Linked DNA regions of Homo sapiens: region 2 is linked to region 1. The links come from fine-mapping of genetic effects on gene expression. A gene starts in region 1. The other region holds a variant in brackets. All regions are shown on one strand. Distances are from middle to middle. Region 1 holds the start of KCNK13 (potassium two pore domain channel subfamily K member 13). Region 2 overlaps KCNK13 (potassium two pore domain channel subfamily K member 13).

Evidence for each region.
Region 2: its variant is fine-mapped to the expression of KCNK13 in left ventricle (GTEx, PIP above 0.99). The same link has a PIP of 0.9 or more in atrial appendage and thyroid.

What each region holds. Positions count from the first base shown.
Region 1 is chr14:90,058,991-90,064,362 of GRCh38, reverse strand. It overlaps KCNK13 (potassium two pore domain channel subfamily K member 13), which reads right to left and starts at 2,369. Exons shown (of 2, transcript NM_022054.4): 1 at 1,824-2,369. The coding sequence starts at 2,157. LOC124903406 reads right to left here. Exons shown (of 3, transcript XM_047432048.1): 2 at 3,452-3,961; 3 at 2,630-3,001. The coding sequence ends at 2,737. RefSeq lists enhancers at 2,427-2,926, 2,927-3,428 and a silencer at 3,677-4,066.
Region 2 is chr14:90,088,882-90,094,253 of GRCh38, reverse strand. The region is part of intron 1 of KCNK13 (potassium two pore domain channel subfamily K member 13); the gene reads right to left. Among named protein-coding and RNA genes, the nearest start is that of KCNK13, 30 kb to the right of the region's middle. RefSeq lists an enhancer at 4,332-4,832. The variant G/A (reference allele first, on the strand shown) is at 2,638.

The DNA of each region.
Region 1 (5,372 bases):
CCTTCCTGCCTCTGTGCCCACTGGGAGCACCAAGAGATGGTTTTTCATGGTGGTGGGAAAGATTCAGCCATCAAATCTCCCATCAAAACCACCCTAAGTTACCATTCAATCTAAAAAAATCCTGTACTTGCTATGCAAACACAGTAGAGTCAAGGTCACTTCCAAAGTGACACCTCCTAATCAGTTTGTTCATCCCAAGTCTTGCCTATGTGGAGATTCTGGAACTGTCTTCTGGGACGTGGGAGGTGATGTGAGGAGGGGCTTGTGGAACACGGCTAAGAGTCCAGCAGATAGTGTGGGCTCAGGGGGAGAACCATGGGGGTGTTATTCCTCCTTCACCAATCTTGGGCCCATTCTGGTCTGCTGCAAGGTTTCCTGCCTGATACCCAGTTATGGTGGTGCCATCATGGCCTGCTGATGGGCCGCACCATCTGGGATGGGATGGGGGCTGGGAGCCAGGCACTTCAGATACAGCCGGTGTGTCCCTAATCATACTGGTCCTCTGCCTCGCCTCCTGTGCATCAGCTGAAGCCCTGGATTCCTGGACTAGCCCTGGGAAGTCTTTCATGATGAATCTGACCTGAAGCCAATCTCTTTTGTCTTTTGTGCTGCTTCTCCTGGCAGAATGTCTATGTAGCACAGCCATGTGTGGGAGCCTCAAGGAGGCTCAACTTGTCGCCCCACCTCACCAGCGAGCTCTTCTAGAGTGCACAGGGGCAGTAGCTACAGAGCGCTCAGCACATGCACCCTGGGCTGTTTGCAACTGCCAGCCTTTTTTGCAGCTTGGAGGCCACTTCCTCTCCGTCTAACTCTTCCAACCTCCCTCCCCTGCTCCAGGTCTCTTTTTGCCCCCCTCAGAATTTATTTCTACAGCATCTTCCCTAACCCCCATTAATCACTTGATTATTCTTCAAGGATGAACAATCTTTAGGGGTGTGGCGCAGACTCCCCCAAATCATTTTCCTTCTGCTGGGAAATAAACACAGCTGATTGTAGCTGTGCTACATCTTTGCTAAAAAATTCTCAATGGCTCCCAGGTGCCTCTAGGTAAATTCCAGCTCCTCAGTCTGTCAGTGAAGGTCCTACCCCCGCCTCCATCCCATTAGCCAGCAGACCTTCCTAGTCTTCCTTCCACCACTCCAACCAGCTCATGGGGCCCCTGAGTGCGATTCTCTCCTACTCTAGAGTGCAACCGCGCTTTCAGTTCCCAAACCCAAGTTATGCCTAACACGAATTGATTCAGCCCAAAGGTCACTTCCCTGGTTCTTCCTGGTGGAAAATTTTCCATCTTTTGAACCGTCATTGGCACTTTTGCTTCCTCACTTTCAGTCTGCTGTTCTGATTTTTTCTCGGTAAGTGTGAAGTCGAGGGCAGAATCTTTTAAAATCTGCACTTCCCCTCTGACTGACTCAGTAAATGTTTAGTTTCCTGTCCCTATCTGTAAAAGCCTTCTTCCCCATGAACTCAAGCCGTGTCTCCTTCATTAGACTGAAAATCTCCCAGAGCAGAGCGTCTCCAATTTAAGGATCATTCCAATCCTTTGGGGACTTTGTTAACATGCAGATTCTGACTCGGCAGGTCTGCAGAGGGGACTGAGACTGCATTTCTAACAAGCTGCCAGGTGACGCTGAAGCTGCCGGTGCCTGGACCACATTAGAGCAGCGGGGAGGCAATACCACCTGTTGATCAGGCGACAGCTCATGTCAGTGGAGTCTGGCTGGGCGCCCAGATGGATGAATGAAAGGATGAGAGGGTCGGTCCTGCCCCCCGGAGGAAGTGGAGGCCGCCCGGAGGTTGTCAGCGAGTCCGGCCAGCACACTTACCTATGGTGGAAACGACGGTGCCCACGAAGTAGAAGGCGCCGGTGAAGTCCCAGCGCGGGCGGACGTTGTCCACGCGGATGCCGGCCCGAGTGGCCTCCTCGTAGTGGCGGAGGAAGCCGCGCAGCTCGTCGCGGCTCAGGTTGTGGCCGCGGCTGAAGTTGGCCAGGCGCTCCTCCCAGCGCTGCTTGGCCTGGCGCTCGTGCGCCAGCTCCAGCGCGGAGAAGACGGCGGCGCCGCCCAGCAGGTAGAGCACGATGAGCGCGGCCAGCAGCAGAAAGCGCGCGTTGTCCTCGTTCAGGTGGCCCGGGCCCCAGCTGAAACCCCGGCCAGCCATGGCCGGGCCCCCGGGGGCAGCCCCCAGGCCCACGGCACCGGGCGTCGGCGGAGTCTCGCCCACACCCCCGGGAAATAAGGGCCCCGGCGCTCAGCCAGCTCCCGGGCGCCCCACCGCCGGCTCGCCCATGACCGCCGGGCTCTCCCGCAGGCCGCGAGGCTCCCCCGGCCGCCGCCTCGGTAGCTCCTGTGGCGCCAGCTCCCCACGTCCTCCTTGACTCCTAGTTTCAAATCCGCTTTGTCGCCGCCGTTCCCCTCCACTCCCCCTGCTCTCCTCGGAGTTCTCCTTAACGCTGAAGGTCCCGGGGAACGGGCGCAGAGTTCACGTCTGCTTGGCGCTGGGATGCGGGCGCAGTTTCCACCCCGGCTCCCTGTCCGGCTCAGATAGGGGAGGGGGCGTGGCGCGTCTTCAGGGCAAGCTCGAGCCAACTCGAGTTTCCCGCAAAGAGACGGTCGCGGGGCGGGGCGGGGCGGGGCGGGGCGGCGGGGGGGGGGCGCGGTCCGGAGGTCTGCGGGTAAGCAGAGCGCCGGGGTCCTGGGTCCTGGTTCCTTTGACTATCGCTTCGCAGGCCGCCGACGGCTAGGACACGGGTGTCAGTCTGCTGGCTTTGTAGGTGCCTCCCCAGGTAGATCGACGATGGTGCCTCCTAGTTGTGGTCGTGGTGTCGCGCTGAGCCTGTGGCCTCCCGAGTCTCCGAATCGGCTGCCGGGGCTTAGGGATGGAGGGGGTCCAGGGCGGGCGCACGGAGAGAGGGGCTGTGCTGAGCGGCGTCCGAGGGCTGCGGCGTCCGAGGGCTCCGACCTCCGGCCGGGCCCCAACGCTGCGCATCCGTTGGGCGGACGGGCTGGAGAGAGGAGACCAGAAAGGGAGGTTGGAACAGGGAGCAAAGGAAGTTAGGGGCTTCTCCCCCGGGCAGCCTCCCTCGCCTTGACCATGCCAGAGCGCCCTTGGTCTCTGGATCCTGCGCGGGGGCGTCCTCTGCGCCTACTAGTAGGCTCCGCCCGGACCAAGCGCGCACCGCGAGCCAGCCCCGCTTCCGGAGAGGAGGCCAAACACTGGGGGCTGGAAGGGCTCCGCGGCCAGGAGACCTTGACCTTGGAGCGTTCCATCTCTTCCCCCCGGGCTTGGCTGCCTAGTGCGTTCCAGAGTTTTGCCTGGACGCGGGGTCCGCGCAGAAGGCATCCCCCACCTCATGCAGAACAGTAGCAAGGCTCTCCAGCAAACCGCCGGGGCCCCCTCCCCGAGACCCCGCCTTGTAGCGGGCGCTGGCGCCGCTGCCGCGCTCAGATCTCACCTTCCGGGGAGCGCCCTCTCCGCGCCGCTCCGTCGGGACTGTTCCCGGGCCTCCTGGCAGCCGCGGCCCTGCCCTGCCAGCCGGCGCGCGGAGCACAGGTCCGCACCGCGCTCTGCCTTCTCAGGCGGGCGCGCTCCGACGCTGCAACAGGTAGAGCCGTGCGGCTGCCAGCTGCGGCGACTCCACCCTGTCGCCCGCCTCCTTGCGCGCGGGCCCGCCTCCTGCGCTGGTCTCCGCGGGTAGACGCTCGGCGTTCGAAGGGCCGACCCGGGGCTGCGGTGCTCCCACCAGGGCGCGCAGATCTGGGTAGTGGATGCAGAACCGGCTGGTGGGACGCTCAGCCGGTCCGCGTGGGCCCTCCGGGGCCGGGAGAGGGCGCTCTGCCCCCTCCAGACACATCCCGCCCCCGCCCGCGCACACAGCCCCGCGCGGCCCTCCGGAATCACCCGCCCGGGCGTGTGGGAGCGAATCTGTACGCGGAGAGGAATGGATACGTGGGCATCTTCCCACCTTCCGAGAGAGCGGTTTCAGGCGCAGAGCCCCACACACCGCCCTTACGCACCAGGAGCAGAGACAGAAGGGCTAGGAGCCCTGTTGAGTAAAACCGTGTGATTTCGAATAAAGAAACACAGCTCTGGCGAGTGCATTTTCATCAGAAACCCTGGTGCTGTTAGCAGTCCTCTCGGCTCTGTTACTCACTCCCCAATGCCCCTCTTTCATCTAGCCTTCTGAGGGGCAAGAGCTTTAGGGGCATCGCGAGAATGGGTGCATGTGTATACACCCAGGGTGAGTACTGCAATTACCTTTTAAATCCATTTTATTATGAAAAATTTCAAACATTCTAAAAAGTTGAATTTTACAGTGAACACCCGTATACCCACCACCTAGATTCTACAATTAACATGTTACTATACTTGATTTATTAGATATCTACCCGTCCCTCTGTCCATCCATCAACCCATCTTGTTTGGATGCATTTCAGAGTAAGTTGCAGAGCTTGGTACACTTCCGCCCTCATCCCCAGTACTTCTGCCTGCATATCACTACGTAGGGTTCAATATTTACTTGCAGAATTTTTTTCCTTTTCGGATAAAATTTACATACAATGAAATGCACAAATCTTAAGTGTATCATTAGGTGAGTTCTGACAAATGGGTACACCTCTGCAAATCACCTATCCAACCTACCAGCCAAACATCACCAACAGGGTCCCCCTAAGTCCCTTCCCTGTAACTCCCTACCCACATTCCTCCAGAGAAAACCACTGTTCAGAATTTTTCTACCATCGATTACTTTCGCTTTTATAGAACTGTTTTTTTGTTCTAAATCTCCATATAAATGGAATCATGCCGGTATGTACTCTTTGGTGGAAAACATTATGTTTTTGAGATTTACCCATGTTATATGTCTTAGTAATTCCTTCCTCTTTATTGCTAGTTTTTCATTGTTTGGGTATACCATAGTTTGTTTATTCATTCTCCTCCTATTGATAGAAAGGAGAACTGTTAGAAAATTTTGGTCATCATAAATAAAACTGTTAGGAACATTCTTGTACAACTATGTAGACATATGTTTTCATATCTCTTACGTAAAGACCTAGGAGCGGAATTGCTGGGTCATAGGGTAGGTATGTATTTTGCTTTATGAGAAACTGCCCGACATTTTCCCAAAGCAGCTGTACTGACAGTGTACACTAGTTCTGGATGCTCCGTATCTTTGTCAACATTTGGCAGTATCAGTCATTTTAATTTTAAAACTACTGGTGGATGTAGCAATATCTCACTGTGGTTTTAATTTGCATTTCCCTGATGTCTAAAAATACTGGTGGATGTAGCGATATCTCACTGTGGTTTTAATTTGCATTTCCCTGATGTCTAATGCGCTTGCTGGCCACTTGTGTACCTTCTCTTGTGAATTTTCT
Region 2 (5,372 bases), 30 kb before region 1:
TTCAGTGGAGACAATGCAAGGACATTATAGTCAAAGCAGATGGGATGTAGTTTCCATTGATTCATCTACTCAGGAAATATTTACTGAGGCCTATGGCATGCCAGCCTTGTGCAAGGTGCAGGCACACACAGGGGAATGAGATAGAGACAGACAAGGAGCTCCTGGTTCCATGCAGACAGCACGACCTCAGAGATGTCTGTCTCACCCTTCTCCATGGAGTGAAAGCTCAAGCAGAAGAGATCTGCTGTCATGAGAGAAAGAGGCCAGAGGTGGAAAATGGCACCCCCTGCAAATCCCATTAAAACAAATCCCAATATGGCAAGTCAATTATATAATAAATCAGTATTACCAAATGCTAGGCACTTATTCAGTTACAGAATAAGCACATTCAAGGCAATCCAAATATCAAGACTTCAGACTGTATTCCAGAGTTCCAGGAATGAGGATTTGACATAAATCTCCACCCATGAACAAGGAAACTTTAGAATGCTCTGGGAGGATGGCTGGGAGGGATGCCACCCTATGGAACTGAGACAGCCCATAATGTTCTCTGCAAGTGAATGGGAGACAGAGAATCTCCACAGGAAACCTCAAATAACCCCAACCACCATCTGCTCTCCATGGGGGCCCCTTCAGCCCTTTTGCAACATTTCCACTTCATCTAATTTAGGCTGGGCACGCTGGGGAGGACCAGGGGTGCCTCGGAATACAGCATCAAAAGCATCCATCCTGCTTCCTGACTTGCCCTAGATTTGCTTAAAATGTAGAGGTGGCAAAGAGAAATCAGGGCAATAGTAACAGGCTGTTATTCAGAAAACTATCAAGGAAGAATAAAATCAAGTGGAAATGGGACTGACTCCATCTCCAACTGATATTACTGCGAGTTAATTTTCTTCATCAATGCTGGGAGAACAATAGCAATTCTACACCATGTGTTTGGGGAACGTTCTGCTCAACTAGTTAATTAGTTCACAATACAATCTGAGGCTTTGAGGGTGACACAGACATCTAGAAGAAGCGTGGTCCCTGGAGCCAAGCGGATCTGCCTCTCTTTCTGCTGGCTGTGCAGTGAGGAGCAAATTTCCTGTCTCAGTTTCCTCATCTTGCATGGAGTGTTGTTGTGAGGATCCAATGAGATGATGCACTTACACTAGCACTTAGTGCAGTGCCTGGCTCAACACATTTAATTACTGGAATTGGGGCCCCTATTTGGAGTGTCCACCCCATACCCAGAGGAAGCTTAGCACCCAGCGCAAATTAAGGGTCTAAGAAATGGTGGGTGTTTAGTCTCCCTCGCCTGTTTCTGAGTATCGTGATGCTTTTTTTTTTTTTTTTTTTTTTGGAGACAGGGTCTCACTCTGTCATCCAGGCTAGAGTGCAGTGGCATGGTCATGGCTCACTGCAGCCTCGACCTCCTGGGCTCAAGCAAACCTCCCACTTCAGCCTCCTGAGTAGAGGGATTACAGGCATGCACCATCAGGCCCAGCTAATTTTTTAGTTTTTGCAGAGATGGGATCTTGCTATGTTGCCCAGGCTGGTCTCAAACTCCTCCCTCCTTGGCCTCCCAAAGTGTTGGGATTATAGGCATGAGCCACCAAGCCTGGCCTTGTGATGTTTCTTTAAAGGCAGAGAAATGAAAACACTCAATTCTGAAAAGCTGGTCTTCTGTATCTTTTGATCCCATCCATCCTCTTAATCACTAGAGGGCTTTCCTGCTCCTCCAAAATGCTCCCTTTGACCTCTGTCCTCCATGTTTCCTTATGTCTTGCCTGCAAACCTCAGTGTTGTTCTTTCTTTTTAAGTGTGCCCTTACTGCATCTGTGTTTCATAACCTACATTTTCCCCATGACAAAGCCTCTCCTCTTTTCATGGAATATCAATTATTAGAAAGAAAAACCTGCACAGATGGATGTAGTTTAGCAGTGGGTTTCTCTCTACCTCCCAATCAACATGGAGTTGTTCACAGAGGAGTCACTACAAATGTTTTGCAAGGTAAATGTTTGCAAAAAGTGTCTTTAAGAATGGAGCTCCCGGCTGGGTGCGGTGGCTCACGCCTATAATCCCAGCAATTTGGGAGGCCAAGGCGGGCAGATCACGAGGTCAGGAGATGGAGACCATCCTGGCTAACATGGTGAAACCCCATCTCTACTAAAAAATAAAAAAAATTAGCCAGGTGTGGTGGCGGGCACCTGTAGTCCCAGCTACTCGGGAGGCTGAGGCAGGAGAATGGCGTGAACCTGGGAGGCAGAGCCTGCAGTGAGCTGAGATCGCTGCACTCCAGCCTGGGGGACAGAGTGAGACTCTGTCTCAAAAAAAAAAAAAAAAGGAGTTCTCTTTCCCAAAATGAAATTGATTTTATTCTTAAATAACAGCATTCTTGCCAACGTTTAGGTAAGTACATAATAATGCAATTCTTAACATAGCTACCACTGCTTTTCTGATGGTCTTCTCCTTCTCCCCTGCCAGCACTGGTAACTCCAGGACTCTCTCCATAGACTCTGTTTCAAACCTCACTTCCTAAATCATCTTCAGGAGCACTCTACCCCACCGAGAAGAGGGTATTGGCATGTCTTTTACCCTTCATGCATCACTGTCTGCATGGAACTCATAAATAATGAGGCATTTGGCATGCCCAGT[G/A]TTCTGCATTCCAGGTTTAAGAGCAGCCTTTCCCCCAGAAACAGGCTTTTGGGCATTATCCAAAATCAACATGGATGGTATCCAACAAGACCTTAGAGATGCTATTTTTCTTTGACTGTGCTGTGTCAACTGGCTACTGTATAGGACTTGATACATTTTTAATGACTGTACTGAGTTTCCTCTGAACTTGTCACTTTTCACCATTTCCAGTTAGTGGGTCTTAATTTCCCATAGGAAAACCTTTAGCCAGCCATAGAGTTCATTCTTTACCGGTTCGATTCTCATTAATTAAATATCCTAAGTGGAAAAGCTCTTGCGCCTACTGATTGGGACACCCAGAGGGAAATCAACAAGAATGGAATAAAATCTCCATGCACCCCATCAGGAAAACCTTGACTGCTCCATGATCAAACTGGATGCAATTTAAAAAAATAATATCATGTGGGGCCCTCTAACTCTTTCTTGAGATTCTGATTAAAAATCTAGGTGATAAGATCACTTGGTTCACATATCTCAGAGACAAGAGGAACCTCGGCACTTGAGCCAAGGGACAGGAAAGAGGTCAAACATAGAGATGAATGGCAGGTGACACTCAGCCTAGGCAGGTGGGACCAGAAGAAGCACTGAGCTCCCTGTATTATTCTGTTTTCATGCTGCTGATAAAGGTACCCGAGACTGGCAAAAAAGAGGTTTAATGGACTTATAGTTCCACATGGCTGGGAAGGCCTCACAGTCATGGCAGAGGGCAAGGAGGAGCAAGTCATGCCTTACATGGATGGCGGCAGGCAAAGAGAGCTTGTGAAGGGAAACTCCTGTTTTTAAAACCACCAGATCTCATGAGACACATTCACTATCACGAGAATAGCATGGGAAAACCCACCTCCATGATTCAATTACCTCCCACTGGGTTCCTCTCATGACACGTGGGAATTGTGAGAGTTACAATTCGAGATGAGATTTGGGTGGGGACACAGCCAAACCATATCATTCTGCCCTGGCCCCTCTCAAATATCATGTCCTCACATTTCAAAACCAATCATGCCTTGCCAACAGTCCCCCAGAATCTTAACTCATTTCAGCATTAACTCAAAAGTCTACAGTCCAACATCTCATTGGAGACAAGGCAAGGCCCTTCTGCCTATAAGCCTGTAAAATCAAAAGCAAGTTAGTTACTTCCTAAATACAATGGGGGTTCAGGCATTGGGTATACCCACTCCAAATGGGAGAAACTGGCCAAAATAAAGGGGTTACAGGCCCCATGCAAGTCTGAAATCCAGCAGGGCAGTCCAATCTTAGAGCTCCAAAATTATCTCCTTTGACTCCATGTCTCACATCCAGGTCATGCTGATGCAAGAGGTGGGTTCCCATGGTCTTGGGCAGCTCTGCCCCTGTGGCTTTGCAGGACACAGCCTCCCTCCCGGCTGCTTTCATGGCTGGTATTGTCTGGCTTTTCCAGGCACATGGTGCAAGCGGTCGGTGGATTGACCATTCTGGGGTCTGGAGGATAGTGGCTTTCTTCTTACAGCTCTGCTATGTGGTGCCCCAGTAGGGGCCCCCAGTAGGGACTCTTTGTTGGGGCTACAACCCCACACTTCCACACTGCCCTAGCAGAGGTTCTCCATGAGAGCCCCGCCCCTTCAAGCAAACTTCCACCTGGACATCCAGGCATTTCCACCATCCTCGGAAATCTAGGCAGAAGTTCCCAAACCTCAATTCTTGACTTCTGTGCACCTGCAGGCTCAACACCACACGGAAGCTACCAAGGCTTGGGGCTTGCACCCTCTGAAGCCACAGCCTGAGCTGTACCTTGGCCCCTTTTAGTCATGGCTGGATTGTCTGGGACACAGGACACCAAATCCCTAGACTGCACACAGCACGGGGACCCTGGGCCTGGCCCACAAAGCCATTATTTTCCTAGGCCTCCGGGCCTGTGATGGGAGGGGCTACTGTGAAAACCTCTGACATGCCCTGGAGATATTTTCCCCATTGTCTTCGGGATTAACATTTGGCTCCTCGTTACTTATGCAAATTTCTGCAGCCAGCTTGAATTTCTCCTCGGAAGATGGGATTTTCTTTTCTATCATATTGTCAGGCTGCAAATTTTCCAAACTTTATGCTCTATTTCCCTTATAAAACTGAATGCCTTTAACAGCACCTTCAATAGCACCTCTTGAATGCCTTGCTGCTTAGAGATTTCTTTTGCCAAACACCCTACATCATCTCTCTCAAGTTCAAAGTTTCACAAATCTCTAGGGCAGGGGCAAAATGCCTTGAGTCTCTTTGCTGAACATAACCAGAGTCATCTTTGCTCCAGTTCCCAACAAGTTCTTCATCTTTGTCTGAGACCACCTCAGCCTGAACCTTATCGTTCATATCACTATCAGCATTTTTGTCCAAGCTATTCAACAAGTCTCTAGGAAGTTCCAAACTTTCCCACATTTTCCTGTCTTTTTCTGAGCCCTCCAAACTGTTCCAGTCTCTGCCTGTTACCCAGTTCCAAGGTTGTTTCCACATTTTCAAGTATCTTTTCAGCAATGCCCCACTCTACTGGTATCAATTTACTCTATTAGTCTGTTTTCATGCTGCTGATAAAGACATATCCGAGACTGGGAAGAAAAAAAGGTTTAATGGACTTACGTTCCACATGGCTGGGGGGCCTTACAATCATGGCAGAAGACAAGGAGGAGAAGTCAAGTCTTACATGGATGGTGGCAAGCAAAGAGAGCTCATGCAGG